Regions from separate parts of the Homo sapiens genome. Here region 2 is linked to region 1. Evidence: fine-mapped expression QTL. A gene starts in region 1. The other region holds a variant in brackets. All regions are shown on one strand. Distances are between the middles of the regions. Region 1 holds the start of TCAF2 (TRPM8 channel associated factor 2). Region 2 has its middle 21 kb from the start of CTAGE6.

Region 1 (8,355 bases):
GCCTGCCTGATTTAAGCTAATACAGATCTATCCTTGGAAATGGAGATGAATTCATTGTCCCCTGAATCTCATAAAGGAGAGGTGGATTATCTGATTTAAAAAAAAAATGGATTTGGTTAGAAAGGACAATAGGGGTAGTGTAGGGAATAGATGTTGAGGAGGCAACCACAGTGTTTACTAAATGGTGCTTTTAAAAAATCTTCCTCCACACTGTAGAATGGAATCCAAACTCCCTAGTATGGCAGCCAAAGTCCCTCTAAACCGAGCCCAAACTTCTCTTTAGAGCTAGCACTATGCAAGTTCTGCTAACAAGTTTCAGTCACTATGAACATTTTGTCTTTCTCAAATTAAGCCTTTCACATTCATATCTCTGTGCTTTGGAATCTTATACAGCCTCACATTGTAATACCTTCCCCTTTATCTCCCCGCAAATATACATTTTTCTAAGCTGAGTTTCTGTGTCACCTTCTGTGCACATTCTTCTCTAATCCTTTGATCAGAAATAATTGCTGCTTCTTTTATGTGCCCTTGCACCTGATTCGTAGCCAATTTTGGTATAGTTGTTTTCTTGTCTTTTTTCCTCTCTAGATTTACTGACCATAATAGCATTTCTATCTCCCAGAGTGCCTCACAGAATAAGTGTCCAGTAAGGATATGTTGACTTTCACTGAATGGCGTCTGTTTTCTCCCAAGTAAAAGGAAAGATCTGGGGCCTGCACCTTTGCATAAGCAGTAACCATTTCGAAGCTTATCCAACCCACCTTATTTTCGTTGTTGTTGTTGTTGTTCCGTTTTCTTTTATTTTAGGTTTCTAGCTGCCTGAACTCACGGTTTTTAGTTTCTGTCTCTAGTGAAAGGGGAAAAGAGGGATGAGGAAGGGGTTTTACTCGCCTAACCAAAAACAGAAACTAAGAACCCATGACTGTATTCTCTCTCGGACACCCTTTAGTCAGAACGTAAATGCTGGTTACCATCTTTAATCTTTTTTTTCTTCTTTTTTTTTTTTTTTTTTTTTTTTAGGAACCGTTATGCCGTTCCTATGTTGTTAGGTTCCATTCCTCAGGCAGCTCCTGCTCCCAAATGGCAGGTACTTTCTGCTCTCTGACCCTGGAAAAATCACCTTTGTTTAAAGCCCCTTTCTTCTATTAGAGCAACACCAAAATACTCTCAGGAGTTAATTTAGAACAATAGTAGTACTTTACCATGAGGAGTGAGGTTGATGTAGGTGGAGACTGGTTAAAACCTAAGAGTACAAACACACAAAAGATACCGAGCCAGCTTTTTGTTGTTGTTGTTGAGACGGAGTCTCGCTCTGTCGCCCAGGCTGGAGGGCAGTGGCATGATCTCTGCTCACTGCAACATCCGCCTCCCGGGTTCAAGCAATTCTCCTGCCTCAGCCTCCCGAGTAGCTGGGATTACAGGCCTGTGCCACCACGCCCGGCTAATTTTTGTATTTTTAGGAGAGACGGGGTTTCTCCATGTTGGCCAGGCTGGTCTTGAACTCCTGACCTCAGGTGATCCACCCACCTCGGCCTCCCAAAGTGCTGGGATTACAGGAGTGAGCCCCCGCACCCGGGCCTGAATCAGCTTTTAACGTGGAACTTTACTGACCCACTTTCTTTGATGTCCATCTCCCACTTCAGCTCCCAAAGGTCAGTTGTTCCCTGATATGAAGCCTAAGAACTCAACGTACTTCACCGCACGTTGGATTTCTAGCCGGAATTATTCCAAATTCTGGCAAGTCTTATCCACAATTTCTTTTCTGTGTAAGTTTCTCCTTGCTCTTTATTTCTGAAACCTGAATGTATTTGGTCCTCTGCCAATCAGATTTCCACTAGTCCTCCGAAGAGTCAGTTATTAACTCACTAATTCGACAGATATTTTTGGACGTTCACTATATCCTTATTTATTTAGCATATATTTAGTTATTTATTAAGAAACTAAAGCCTATTCTATGTCAGAAATGAAAATAGGCAATGAGGACTCAATGGTGGGCAAAATGCAGACAGACTACTTTTTTCCCCTCATTCTAGCACAGTCATCACTTTCCTAGGTAAGACGTTCCTAAACTCCAGACTACACCAAATCCTCCTCCTGACCACACCCTTCCACCTTGATTTTCACCTTCTGACCTCTCTTGCGTAGAAATTCGAGCACCAGCCACTCTATAGCTTTAGCTTAATTTCTCCAGCCATGCACGGACGAATCTGTGTTAGTGATGCCACAGGCACGTTTCCCTCCCAGCAAGAATATAACTTGCTGGGCAGCATTTCTGTGGATACTTTGAGAGAAAAATGCCCTAGTTGAGCACCCCGCACCATGGCCATAAGCATCCACCGGGCTCGAAGTGCATGGCCCGCAGCTGACCACTAGGGGGCAGCCCTCCACGCAGAGGCTCGAGCGACGGAGGCGACGCGGCGGCTACCGGCTCTGCTGAGCCCACCCCAAGATCGGAGGGAAGGGAGCCTGATTCCACGCGGGGCCTCCCCCGTGGCATACGTTGTTGTTAGGGAACTATTCGCCCCAAATATGGTTTATTGGAGACTTAGGGTTTGCTTTTCTTATCAAGTGCGACAGCAAACTGGCTGGGTCCCCTCTCGCATCCAAGAACCCGCAGAGACCCTGAGGGAGCCGGTTTGGGGCCCCATGCAGGCCAAAGCATCCCTCCGGGAAGGCGGGGTCGCTCACCTGGTAGGCGCCCCGAGAGCCCGCAGCACGGCCCGAGGTGGGGTCCACCGATGGAACGGGAGACCACGGGCGTGGCTCAGGGAGCGGTAGCCGCGCCCCGGGCCCGCCTCAGGGTCGGCTCCGCCTCACCCCAGCCTGTGCCCCGCCTCCGGGACAGCCCAGTTTCCGAGACCTCCTAGCCTCCAAGACAGCCCCGCCGCCAGAACAGCCTCTCCTCCAGGACCGGCCAGCCTACGAGAGAGCCCCGCCTACGGTACAACCCGCCTCCGGGACCGCAGGACTCCACCTCCGAGACAGCTCAGTCCCCAGGACAGTCCCGCCTCCGAGACGGCCCCGCCTCCAGGACGGCCCCTACCTCCGAGACCGCCCCGCCTCCGGGACCGCCCCGCCCCGCCTCGCCTCCGACCCGTCCCCCGCGCGCCACTGCAGAGCCTGTCCGTCAGTCCCTAGGTATCCGCACTGCTCAGGGGTGAGTTTTCCAATCCCAGCGGGTCCTGGGGTGGGGGCGGTAGCTGAGCACCTAGGGCACTGGGGGTCGCCGCAAAGTGCTGGAGGCCCCAGACCATACCCGGCGTCAGGGGGTGTCCCTCCCTTCTTAGGTCTAGGTCTTTGGTTTCATTTCGTTTTGTTAGTCTGGTGCTATTTGCAGTTTGTCTCAAAACACGTTTCTCCCTCCTATTTGAACTTGTAAATTACGAATTTGACAAAGATGTGCATGGTGTGTGCGTGCACGAGGGCACATTTCGTTGCGGAATGCTGGGTCAGCTTTCCGGGACATATTACTCATCTGAGGTTTTTTGTCTGTTTTTGTTTATCCTGTCAAACTGGTACTGCCCCAGAAGTGAAAGACGTCGCTTGTCTTCTGGGAGGTAGCTAGCACGATCTTGAGCTCAGGCTTCCGGATCTCTCTCGGCTGCTTTTTTCCACTGGTAACTTCTGAGGCTGAGATCAGGTACCCGCATTCTCAATGCTCTGCCGAGTATTGGCTCTCTTTTGTGAATTTCTTTCCCGCGAGCAGTATTAAGAAAAAGGTGGCGGATAGGAAGGGAAGAGGGGAAGAGATGGAATTCTACAGGAAATGCAGGGCATGCTCAGAATGCCAACCTTTCCGAGCTTGGAGAGATTTAGTGGAAGAAAGTAGCAGGAAAAACGTCCAGTAATCACTGGCATGCCAGACCCTGGAGAAGCCAGGCTGAGGCGCTCTGCAAGTTTCACCTTAGAGAGAGTGGACGAAATGTAACGGTTCTTGTTAGAGTTCTTGTAGAGGACGATTGTGGATGAGAATACATCCTGGGGACTAAAACCATATTGGTTTAGTCTGGAATGATTGCCAACTAAAGGGACTGATGTTTGAGAGAGATGGTGAGAGATTAACCAAATGAGGTGGTTGACTGCATATAGAAGCAGGAGGGAGAGAGGAAGGAGGCACTTGTGGCTCAAGGGCTTGGTGTGTGTTTTAGTTTAGATTCTGCCCTAAAGCAAAGCCTTATGCAAGGGCTTACCTGCAGGTAATTTTTTGGGGGTAAGTGAGACCAAAAAGCCCAAATGAGGAAGTGGAGAGAATGAGACAAGGAAAAAAGGGAAAGCCAGGAGGAGCATGTGGCTGAGGGTCTTCCACATGGCGCTCCTTTCCTCCGGGTGCCTTCCGAGGACCTCTGATGGGCACCTCGGGAAAGCCACGGGGCACTCTTCTGTGAATCCCCGCTCTACTGGGCGAAGCTCACCCTAGTGTCAACTCACCGCTACTTCAGGGCTGCCTTGTGCACCTGCAGAGGTGAGAAGCCATCAGAGCACAGAGGAAAGTCCCTTACAGTGGGCTCGTCAGAGACGCGCAAAGGGAGGCGGCACAGGCAGCCAGGGGACTACTGCACTACTGCAATCTGCAACGCTGCCCTCGGCAACCCGGGAAACTTAAAAGGACAGCAAAGGGACAGACACTCTCGTTTATTCCGTGCTCACTGTATGTGTACCAACCCCAGACAAGGCATTTTTAGACATATTCTTTGCTTTATTTTATTTTACTTTACTTTATTTTATTTTATTTTATTTTATTTTATTTTTTGAGGCAGAGTCTTGTTCTCTCGCACAGGCTAGAGTCCACTGGTGCGATATCGGCTCACTGCAACCTCCGCCCCCCACCGTCAGGGTTCAAGAAATTCTCATGACTCAGCCTCCCCAAGTGGCTGGGATTACAGGTGCACGCCACCATGCCCAGCTATTTTTTGTAGATTTAGTAGAGACAGGTTTCGCCATGTTGGCCAGGCTGGTCTCAAACTCCTGAGCTCAGGTGATCCACCGGCCTCGGCCTCCTAAAGTGCTGGGATTACAGACATAAGCCACTGCGCCTGGCCTATCCATATTCCTTTAATCTTCAAAAACAATCTTCCCATGGCTGTATTATTCTCTTTTTGTAGATGGGGAAACTGAGACTGAAGTCATTTATCCAAGAGGGGCTGCTTAAAGGGACAAATAGTCTCAGTGTTAGGCACAGCCAATTTTAAAAGACCTCCGGAAACTGCATAATGCTACCAAATAGAGGAGGGTCCTCTCCATTAGGGCAGATTTGATAAATTAGGGGGCACTTTCCAACTTAGCAAAGCTGTCAGAAGAAAGGCATGTTTTGACAGGTCTATGACCTTTCTGTTCAAAAAAATCAAGCACTGTGTCCACTCAGGCACACGAACTTAACTATCACCTTGATTTACTGGCCCTGCAGGATCTAGCCCGTCCCTCCCTCCTCCTGGGGTCCTGCTCCTCCCTGCTCCTGGCTCTCAGCCACCCCAAAGTGGTCTCGTTGCTGGAATGCCCTTTGCTCACTGCATTTCAGGTTTCAGCTTCAATGCCACTTTGTCAGAGTCCTTTCCTATCACCCAATCTAAAGTAGTCTTCCAGTTCCTCCATGTCACATCATTGTGTTTTATTTTCATCATAGTGATTGTTGCATTTTATTTATCTGTTTATCTACCTATTTATTCATTATCTTTCTCCTTCTAAAATATTCAAATCACGAAAAGGGAAACCTTATCTGTTTTGTTTCTTGCTGTACTCCCAGTGCTAGAACAGTGCTTGGCCCACAATGGGGAATCCAGTAAAATTTGGAGGTGAATGCATTTAGTTGTTTGCTTTTTTCACCTGTTCCTTCATCTGTTCTGACCAGCAGTGCTTATCAGTATCTCTTAAATACATGAAAGTCTTTGCTTCCCCCTGCAGCAGCTGATAGAACCATGGCGACCATTGCTGCTGCTGCGTTTGAGGCCCTCATGGATGGAGTGACATGCTGGGATGTCCCCAGAGGCCCCATCCCCAGTGAACTCCTTCTTATTGGAGAAGCCGCCTTCCCCGTGATGGTGAATGACAAGGGCCAGGTGCTCATTGCTGCCTCCTCCTACGGCCGAGGCCGCCTCGTGGTTGTGTCCCATGAGGGCTACCTGTCGCATGCTGGCTTGGCTTCATTTCTCCTCAATGCAGTGAGCTGGCTCTGTCCCTGTCCTGGGGCTCCCGTGGGAGTGCGTCCATCCCTGGCACCTCTAGTAAACATCCTACAGGATGCTGGGCTTGAGGCACAGGTCAAGCCAGAACCAGGAGAGCCCCTAGGGGTTTACTGTATCAATGCCTACAATGACACCTTGACTGCAACGCTGATCCAGTTTGTGAAACATGGAGGGGGCTTGTTAATCGGGGGCCAGGCCTGGTACTGGGCCAGCCAGCACGGCCCTGACAAGGTGCTCTCCAGGTTCCCTGGGAACAAGGTGACAAGTGTAGCCGGAGTGTACTTCACTGACACCTATGGGGACAGAGACCGGTTCAAGGTCTCTAAGAAGGTGCCCAAGATCCCACTCCATGTCAGGTGAGTGTTTGTTCCCCTCTTAGGGAGTCTGACTCAGGATAAACAATAGAGTTGGTTCCCCTCTTCAACAAGCTTCCATTGCAATACAGGTGATTTTCCACTCAGTTTGGAACCACCACAAATCAAAAGCAGGATGATTAAAATGCACCAAGACACAAGAGAGGCTGGGCCCTCACTGCCACTCCCTCCTGTGGCCAAAGCTGAATAGAAAAGCTTGTCTTACCACTTTATCTCCATGTCTAGTAAATAGAACCTAGAGAGTGCTCATCAATACCTCTTAAATGCATGAAAGAATATTTGTTTGTTTGTGTGAGCACCGATTGTTGATCATGCTGCATTCTGGACAATGGGGGTCTAGCAGAGATCGAGGCAGGCAAGTCATGCCATCATGAGGTTTGTATTCCAGGGGAGAGATAGGTATTAAGGAAACTAATATATATGTGCTCTATCAGGTATTGCTAAGATCCATGAAAGATGATAATATAAGTGGATAGCATGACAACAGGAAGGCTGATGGAGGCTATTTTATTTAAGATGTTCAGGGAAGTCCTATCAGTCAGACCAAGTTGGATTGGTCAGGATTTGTTGGCGTTGCTAGCAGAAGGGATTTAGTATGGGGAATTGACTATACCCATGATAGAGGAGCTGAAAATACACACAGGGGACAGCAAGTAACCCAGAGATCAGCAACAGCAGAACCAGCAGAGGGAGATGGTGGTATTACTGAAGTCCAGGTGCTGCGGCCACCTGGTAGAAGCTGGAGCCATGCTATGCCTTCCCAGCAGGAGCTGGAACCACAGATGAAAGGTCTGTCTGCTAGAAGCTGGAGTCTCAGAGAAGACACTGTGGTTACCAGAAATACAGCCTGAAGAGAGAAGCAAGCACTTAAACTCCTTCCTTCTTCCTTCCTGATTTCAGTCTTCTACCTCTCTCTCCCATGGGCTGAACCCACCAGGATCCAGGGAACAGGAGAACCAAAGAAATGCAGTTTTCTGCAACACGGAGGATGACCAAGATGAAAGGGGAATAGAGATGAGTGCAAACAAGCTCATGGCCGGCTTGGAAGGCTGGTCTGGTAGGTAGCACTTGAAAGGAGACCTCAAGGAAGTGAGGGAATGAGCCATGTGGGCATCTGTGAGAGGAAGATTCCAGGCAGAGTGAGGAGTGAGGGTGAGAAAACCTGGAAGGGAAGCCTGCTTAGTATGTTCCAAGGGAAAGGGAGTGGCCCTTCTATAAGGTCGGAAGGCTCTGCAAAGCTCCAGGGGAGAATAGCTGAAGGCAGCTGTTCTGTGACCCTGAGGCAGAGGGCAAGGAGTAGGTACAAGGGAGTGTAGGAGAATTTGTCTTGATCAAGCCTGTTTGTTTGAAGTTGTCCAGGAGCTGACATTTGAACATCCGCACACATGATGTTCTCTGAATGAGGAACAATAAATGTTAGTCATTTACAGATTGTGTAGGCTCCAGGCTTTCGGCATTATGCCTGCAGTAAATAAAAGCAAGCAGCTTCAGCTTCTCGGGGCTGCTCTCTGGCCACTACAGCCAGGCAGTCACCTAGCTGTTCTTACACTGCATACTTGTGTCTGAGTACTCATTTCATCCATTGGCCAGGGACACACCTGGCAATCAGGGAAGCCAGAATGATGGGAACTCAGTGAATGATAGCTCAGGTCATGTAAGAACTGACAGGCCAGGAGTAGAACTTTAGACCTTATTTGCAGTGAGATGGGAAGACATTTTGTATTCTCTACAGAAGATTGCTATGATGTGACTTAAATTTCAAAAGGAACCCTCTGATTGATGGTGGAGAACAGACTGTGGGA
Region 2 (8,355 bases), 120 kb after region 1:
TAAAATCTCTCTTTCCCACTACATGGAAGCTTCATAGGGGCAGGGACTAGACCTACCCTATTCACAGCTGTATCTACAGCCCCAAGGGCAGGGCCTGTCACATATCAGTTTTGGTGTAGGGGTCTATTGTATTAACACATTACTAACAAGAGTGTATGATAATGGGAGAAGACTAGATGAGGATTTCCAACTATTGTATATGTTTGCTGTCTTTAGGCGGATCACCTGAGGTCTGGCGTTCCACACCAGCCTGGCCAACATGACAAAACCCTGTCTCTACTGAAAATACAAAAATTAACTGGGTGTGGTGGCACATGCCTGTAATTCCAGCTACTTGGGAATCTGAGGCAGGAGAATCACTTGAATCCGGGAGGCGGAGGTTGCCCTGAGCTGAGATCGTGCCACTGCACTCCAACCTGGGCAAAAGAGTGAGACTCTGTCTCAAAAAAAAAAAAAAGAAAAGAAAAAGAAAGAAGAAGAAGAAGAAAAGACCTCTGTTATTTATCCCTATTCAAGAAAATGGTTTCACTATTCCAGAAAGAAGCTTTAGTGTGATTAGAACCATTCTCCTATTTTTAGCTTCTGAAAACAGGCTGCACTGTGAGAGTGAATTTTCCATTAATTCTTATTTCTCCTTTTCCTTGGGACTTGGTCAGTGAATAGTATAAGCTATTTTCAGGAGTTTCTGTATTTTGGTGAAAAAAGTATTTATCTGACATTTCCTGGGCCCTATTTCTACTACATTTCGATGTCAATTCCTCTCCTCTGCTAACATTTCCAGCCAAAGTTAACTACAGTGTAGATACTTTCATTTTGAATTAACATTTTTCCTGTTCTGCCATGTTATTAGGTTCTGGAACAGGGATATATCCCACAATAACAGTAATGACAAATTAAGACCCCCCTAAAAAAAATTCAAATTATTTTATATGGCCTCCCAGCTCCAAAACAAGGCAGCTGAGATGCCTATACATGGCACCTTCATACCGGTACATCTATCTGTTAGTCTCCATTTCTGTAGAAGAAAACAAAAAGATGCTATTAGCCTACTTCAAATTGTTGTTCCACTTTTGAATCTAACCTAGTTTCCTATGATAAGTTATTTCTTCAGGCCCCTAGGCTGTCTTCACCAGAAACTTTGAAATAGAAACCAGACCTTTCTGAGTATTGCTCAGGTACATCTCTGATACACTGATTCATCTAAGATCAAAAGTGCCCCCCGCTAATATGGCCTCAGCAGCACGTAGCTAGCACATGAACAGCAGGTCAGCCAAGACGTTAAATGTGGTCAAGGTTTCCAAAGAAGGAGAGCTACTTTTCAGTCAATGCTATCTCCTTATAGGCATGGCATGATTGCGTTTCTCAGGATATTATTTTCATGAACTTGTTCCTGCTGCAAGGTCTTTAGTACCATGCCTGGCTTCCATTTTGAAAAGCCTTCTTGTGCAAGATTGGTGCACTTCCCAGTTCTGGTAGGAGGACAGTTTGGTCCCGTACTCAGCTTGCAGAAGTTCCTACATTTTCTACACACAACTCTTTGTACTGATTCACTTTTCATTTGGGAAAGCCATGAGAAACTTTTTTCATAAAAAAATATAACCATCATCTCTATAAACTCTTCAAGATGATAAAGGGAGAGAGCATCATTTTGCAATGTTAAGCATAGGTTGGGAAAAATGGTGTTGAGAAAAAATTAAGATAGAAATTGTAAACTATCTCTCAAGCTGGAGATCTAGAGAACAAAGAAGTTGAGTAACAGATGGAGAGAAAAAGTCCTCACCCTGAGGAGTAACCAAGAGCTTACCTGAGGAACAGCTTCCCAGACACCACTTCAAATATCATATTACCTCATATCAAGAGGATAAACCCAAAGGCAGCCCAATGGAGCAGTTTGATAAGCCATTTCTGTTTTAAAATTCAATAAGAAAGATCCCTTTGTTTCTTTTTCCTAGGCTACCAACAAATTTATAAAATGTTCTTGAATGTATTGTCCTTTTCATCAAGAATAATCTGAAAAAAACCCAATCATCTTTATTGTGCAGTACAGATGGAAGGGGAGAATTAACAACAACAAAGCCACTGCTTTTTATTCCTAGGCCCTTAATAGCCCTAAAACAACTAACTGTCTGTATTAGTTCATTTTCACATTGCTATGAAGAAATACCCAAGACTGAGTAATTTATAAAGGAAAGACGTTTAGTTGGCTCACAATTTTGCAAGCCTGGGGCAGTCTCAGGAAACTTACAATCATCGCGAAAAGGAAAGCAAGCATGTCTTACATGGTGGCAGGTGAGTGATGAGAGAGCAAGAGAGAAACTACCAAACACTTAATAAAACATCGGATCTCTTCAGAACTCACTCACTATCACGAGAACAGCATGGGGGGGAACTGGCCCCCATGATCCAATCACCTCCAACCAGCTCTCTCCCTCAACACCTAGGTATTACAATTCAAGGTGATATTTGGGTGGGGACACAAAGCCTGGCCATATCACTCTCTGTTGCTAAAAAAGAAAAACTTAGGTGGAGATTTGGAAATTAAAGTCCAGTGTAATTGGCCCCACTGTGGAGAACCAAGCCATGCAAGGACACTCACAATGATGAAAAAAAAATTCTCAGCACTTAGGTAAGGCACTCAGTTGGAACAATGCTTTCCTGGGTCTGCAGACTGGAACCTAAGCAGCTGTGTGCTTCACTTAGATAAATACATATTCAATGCATGAGACTGATTCACCCTCACAAATGATACTTCTTTTAATAGGATCATGCAGTCTACTCCCAGCCACATAGTTTTTGTCTTAAATAACAAATCATTTGAACAGGTAGTTAAAATGAGGACCATTCAGGTTTGAATTAGTAAAGTTACATATGGGAAGATTCCGTGAATTATTGTAGCAGACGGGAGTTATAACAAAAAATATATTGTGCATTTATATAATTTCATAATCCCATTCAAGCAATGACCCTAAAAATCTATTTTCCAGACCACATTTACTCCCAAGGATATCAGTGTAAGTTAGGTGAATCATCAATAAACCGCTTCTTTTCAGAAACTGTTTTAAGTGCTTTTATATTTATTTATGCTCACAACATTCCTACAGAGTAAGTACAATTACACTCTTCATTTTGCTGAGAACTAGTAAGCTGTGAAGCCACATTTCCAACCCTAGAAGTTGGAGCCCACACTCTCAGCCAGCATACTGTCCTATGGAGTTACTGGATCTGCCATCGCCTGTAACTCTGCCTGCATTAGACTATGTGTCTGAATACTGAATCACAGAGCAAGCAGAGTCCAACTGCCAAAACCAATCAGGTTATTCCTAGTTACACAAAAAGCAGTTACTTTACAGTAAAGGTCATTCATCCAAGGAACACTTCGCTCAGGATATACAATTGATTTTTTTTCCAATACCAAGACCGTGTCCAACCTAGACTGGAGGGTTTTAAAGATTCTGCGATTCAAAATAAGAGCTTGATGGAGTCTTAGAGGAAGCAGGTCTTACACTCAAGGTTTTTATCCTTTTTAAGGATGCCCCAACTCCTCTCATTATGTCTAAAAGCATTGGATAAGGGACCACATACGTTCCCATAGGTTATTAGCTCCAATAGCTGTAAAATCTAAATTCCCAACAAACTGGAGACATTTCAAGAGGCAGAAATCACCCTAGAATACTTTAGGGAAATAATAATGGTCACTTTTAAGTTTTAAAGAAGTGGGTTTTTATTGTTGTTGTTGGTGGTGGTGGTTTTGTTTGTTTTTGAGATGGAGTCTCGCTCTGTTGCCCAGGCTGGAGTGCAGTCATGAAATCTCAACTCACTGCAATCTCTGCCTTCTGCATTCAAGTGATTCTCCTGCCTGAGCCTCCCAAATAGCTGGGTCAACAAG[T/C]GTTTGCCACCATGCCCAGCTAATTTTTGTATTTTTAGTAGATACAGGGTTTGGCCATGTTGGTCTCGAACTCCTGCCTCACATGATCCACCTAGCCTCGGCCTCCCAGAGTGCTGGGATTGCCGGCATGAGCAACAGCGACCAGCCTTAAAGATGACCCTACCTTTATTTAAAATGACCCTGCTTGTATTTCCTCCCCTGAATGCCTTAAAGTCCCTGACTTATTTGAAAACTTAGTATTTCGAAACAGTTTCAGAAAAAATTAAAGCCTTAGTGGTTGGTCACACTAAATGGGACCGTCAAAGCTCCTACTGCTCACAAATATTGTTAAAATGGAATAACACGCACTGCTAAAGGGAATTAAAGTCACTCCTATCTTGAATGAACCCTCGACATTTTAAGTTCTGTGTCCTCTGCATAGAATCTTTGTTCTTTGTCTCTCCCTTGTGGCCATTTAGAAAACCTTTCAGCTCCTGATCACCAGTTGAAACAGTGAAATTGTTCCCATTGTGGCAAACACAGTCTCTTGCCGTGGTTTTAATTTAAAAGAGATATTTATGTTACCCTTCCCATGAAGCAATTGACTGGTCAATATGCTCTCTACTTGTGTTATCCATAAAAATTTCCCAAACCAATTTACTTTTAGTGTCAGAAGATGCAACCCAACAATATTCTTTTTTTAATGAAATACACTGTGCTCATAAAAAATGTATCTAAAAGCATATGTACAATTTAAATAATAATTAGAAAGGGAACAATCAGATCAGCAACAGATTAAGAAATAGAATGTTGCCAATAATTGAAGTCCTCCATATGTTCCTCCAAGTTCATTGTCCCTCTCCTACCACCAGATGGAACACTAATCTGACTTCTGTGATCATTCCTTTTGCTCCTTTAGTTTTACTACCTATGTGCACAAACTTAAACTACATAGTTTAGTTTTAACTTGTTTTAAACTGTATAAGAATACAAGAAAGTTATATTATATGTAATCTTTTATGACTTGCTTCTTTAGTGCAATACTGTGACATCGTCTGTGTTGATTTGTGTAGCTCTACTTCATTTTTCTTTCTGCCTAATACTCAGTTATATAACTATAATACAATCAGTTAATCTATTTTGCTGCTGATTGGTTTTTGATTGTTTTTATTTGGGGCCTATCTGATACTACAAACATCCTTTACATGTATATCTGTGCGAGAGTTTCTCTGGCATACCCTAGGAAAGGAATTGCTGTATCGTAGAATATGCATAGCTTCAACCTTCTTAGATAAAACCAAGCTGTAGATAAAGACAAGTCAAAGATAAATCATATCACTTAGAGTATATGAGTTTCCATTGCTCTAGATCCTTAGGAACACTTGATATTATGAAATACTTTTTTTTCCAAAGTGATGAGTGCATAGTAATATATTATTGTGGTTTTAATTTGCATTTTCCTCATTACTAATGATGTTAAGCAGCTTTGCATATATTAACTAAACATTTGATTTTTGCTTTTATTTTGAAGTGCTCATTCCATTTTCTTGTGTATTTTTCTATCGGATTTTCTGTATGTCACAATGTTTTAGATATATAAACTTGGTCAGTTACATGTGTGGCCAACAGCTTTTCCCACTCTGGGCCAATTTTCACTCTTCTTGTGGTGTATTTTAATAAACACAACTTCTTAATTTTAAAGTAGTCAAAGTTATTAATCTTTTTTATGATTAATACTATTTGTACCATGAGTAAAAAAAATTGTTTACCCAAATTCCACAAAGAGATTTTTCTATATTATCTTCAAAGAGTTGTATAAATTTTTAAGTTTAAATGAGTTTTGGGCATAGTGAACTAGGAATACAACTGTAGTTTTTTAAAATATGGATTCCTAATTATAGCACTGTTCATTGAAAGGTTCACTCTTTCTGCCTCATCTACGGGGCCAAAAGTCTGGATCTGTGTGGATCTCTTTGCAGGCTCTCTATTCTTTTCTATTTTTTTTCTTCATCTCTATGCCAATGCTATACTATTGTAATATCTTCATAATAAATCTTGCTAATTATTCTACCTTAGTTTTTGTCAAGAACACACAATTATTCTTGGTTGTTTGTGCTTCCATTTAAATTTTTAAACCAGCTTGTTGCATTCCACTAAAACAAGTGAGTAAACAACTACAATAATGAAAAACCCTGTTGAGATTTTGATTCTAAGTAATTTTTTAAGAATATGCATCAATTAGTGGAGACTTGAATTTTTTTTTTTTTTTGAGGTGGAGTCTCGCTCTGTCGCCCAGGCTGGAGTGCAGTGGCACGATCTTGGCTCACTGCAACCTCCACCTCCTGGGTTCAAGTGATTCTCCTGCCTCAGCCTCCCGAGTAGCTGGGACTACAGGTACCCACCACCATGCCCAGCTAATTTTTGTATTTTTAGTATAGACAAGGTTTCACCATATTGGCCAGGCTGGTCTTCAACTCCTGACCTTGTGATCCACCCACCTCGGCCTCCCAAAGTGTTGGGATTACAGGCATGAGCCACTGTGCCCGGCCGAGAATTGATTTTTTAAAAATTAGTTTTCCAGAGGGGAGGAGGCAAAGCAAGATAGCGGAATAGAAGGCTCCATTGATAGTCTGCCCTGCCACCACAAGGACACCAGGTTAACAACTATCTACACAGAAAAAATACCTTCATACGAACCAAAAATCCGGTGAGCCCTCATAGTACCTGGTTTTAACTTCATATGGCTGAAACAAGCACTGAAGAGATAGAAAAAAAACAGTCCTAAATCAAGTATGCCACCCCTCCTGCACCCTTCAGCAATCATGGCGTGGTGCAGAGAGCGTCTCTAGGTGCTGGGGAAGGAAGAATACAGCAATTGTGAGGCATTGAACTCAGTGCTGTCTTGTTAGAGCAGAAAGGAAAACCAGACCAAACTCAGCTGACACCCACCCACAGAGGGAGCATTTAAACCAGGCCTAGCCAGAGGAGAATCACTGATTCCAACAGTTAGAACTTGAGTGCCTGCAAACTTCACCACCGAGGGCTATAACACTCTGTATCTCCAAGTAAACTTGAAAGGCAGTCTGGGCCATAAAGACTGAAACTCTTAGGTGAGTCCTGGTGCTGAACTAGGCCCAGAGACAGTGAACTGGGACTGCATGTGGCGTACAGAAACACTAGCTGGGGCAGCTAAGGGAGTGCTGGCTTCAACCCTCCCATAAACCCAGGCTGCACAACTTATGGCTCGGAAAGACCTCTCTTTCTTCCAGTTGAAGGTAGGAAAAGGGAGAGTGGGAAAGACTTTGTGATGCACCTAGGATACCAGCTCAGCTACAACAAAACAGGGCAACAGTCAGAGTCACGAGGTCCCCACTGCAGGCCCTAGCTTCCAGATGACATTTCTACACACACCCTGGGCCAGAAGGGAACCTGCTGCCTTGAAAGAAAGGACCCAGTCCTGGCAGCATTTATCGCCTGCTAACTGAAGAGCCCTTGGGCCCTGAATAACCAGCAGCAATACCCAAGTACTACACCAAGGGCCTTGGGTGAGCCTTTGAGGCTTGCTGGCTTCAGGTGAGACTCAGGATATTACTAGCTGCGGTGGCTCTGGGGCAAAACTTCTGCTTGAGAAAAGCAGAGGAAAAAGTAAAGGGAACTTTGTTTTGCACCTTAGGTACCAGCATGGCCACAGAAGGATAAAGAACCAGTCAGGCTCTCGGGGTCCCCAATTCTAGGACTTGACTCTTGGACAGCATTTCTGGACCTGCCCTGGGCCAGAGGAGCACCCACTGCCCTAACATGGGAGTCCCAGGACAGGTAGCATTTATGACAAGCTGACTTAAGAGATCTTGGGCTTTAAGGGAACTTTGGTGGTAGTCTGGCAGTACTCCTTGTGGCCTGGGTGGTGGTGGCTATGGGGTGAGGCTCCTCTGCCTTTGGAAAGGGGAGGCAAGAGTGGGAAGGACTGCATCTAGTGGTTAGAGTGCCAGTTCAGCTGCAATACAAGAGAGCACCAGGTAGACATCTAAGGGTTTTTACTCTAGTCCCTGACTCCCAGATGGCATTCTGGACCCACTTCTGGGGCTTAGGGGAGCTTGCTGCCCTGAAGGGAAGGGCATAGGCCTGATTGGCTTTGGCATTTACTGATTGTAGAGTCCCAAGGCCTTGAGGTAATGTAGGCAGTAGCCAGGGAGTGGTTACAGCAGACCTTGGGTGAGACCCAGTAAGCACTGGGCTGGCTTCAGGTCTAACCCAGAACAGTCATAGTGGTGGTGGCCAAAGGGGTGCTTGTGCCACTCCGCCCCCAGCTTTAGGTGGCACAGAACAGAGAGAGAGAAATTCTGTACATTTGGGAGAAAGTAAGAAAAGAGAATAAGAATTTCTGCCTGGTAATCTAGAGAATTCTCCTGGATCTTGTCCAAGACCATCAAGGTGGTACTTGTACAAGTCTGCAAGAACCATGATGTTACTGGGTTTGAGATGCCCCTCTA

The links.
Region 2: its variant is fine-mapped to the expression of TCAF2 in whole blood (TOPMed, PIP above 0.99).

What each region holds. Positions count from the first base shown.
Region 1 is chr7:143,617,864-143,626,218 of GRCh38, forward strand. TCAF2 (TRPM8 channel associated factor 2) reads left to right here and starts at 3,111. Exons shown (of 8, transcript NM_001363538.2): 1 at 3,111-3,157. It overlaps LOC101928466 (a long non-coding RNA gene), which reads right to left and starts at 846. Exons shown (of 4, transcript XR_007060573.1): 1 at 1-846. RefSeq lists a silencer at 3,016-3,175.
Region 2 is chr7:143,732,894-143,741,248 of GRCh38, forward strand. No RefSeq gene overlaps it. Among named protein-coding and RNA genes, the nearest start is that of CTAGE6, 21 kb to the right of the region's middle. The variant T/C (reference allele first, on the strand shown) is at 3,887.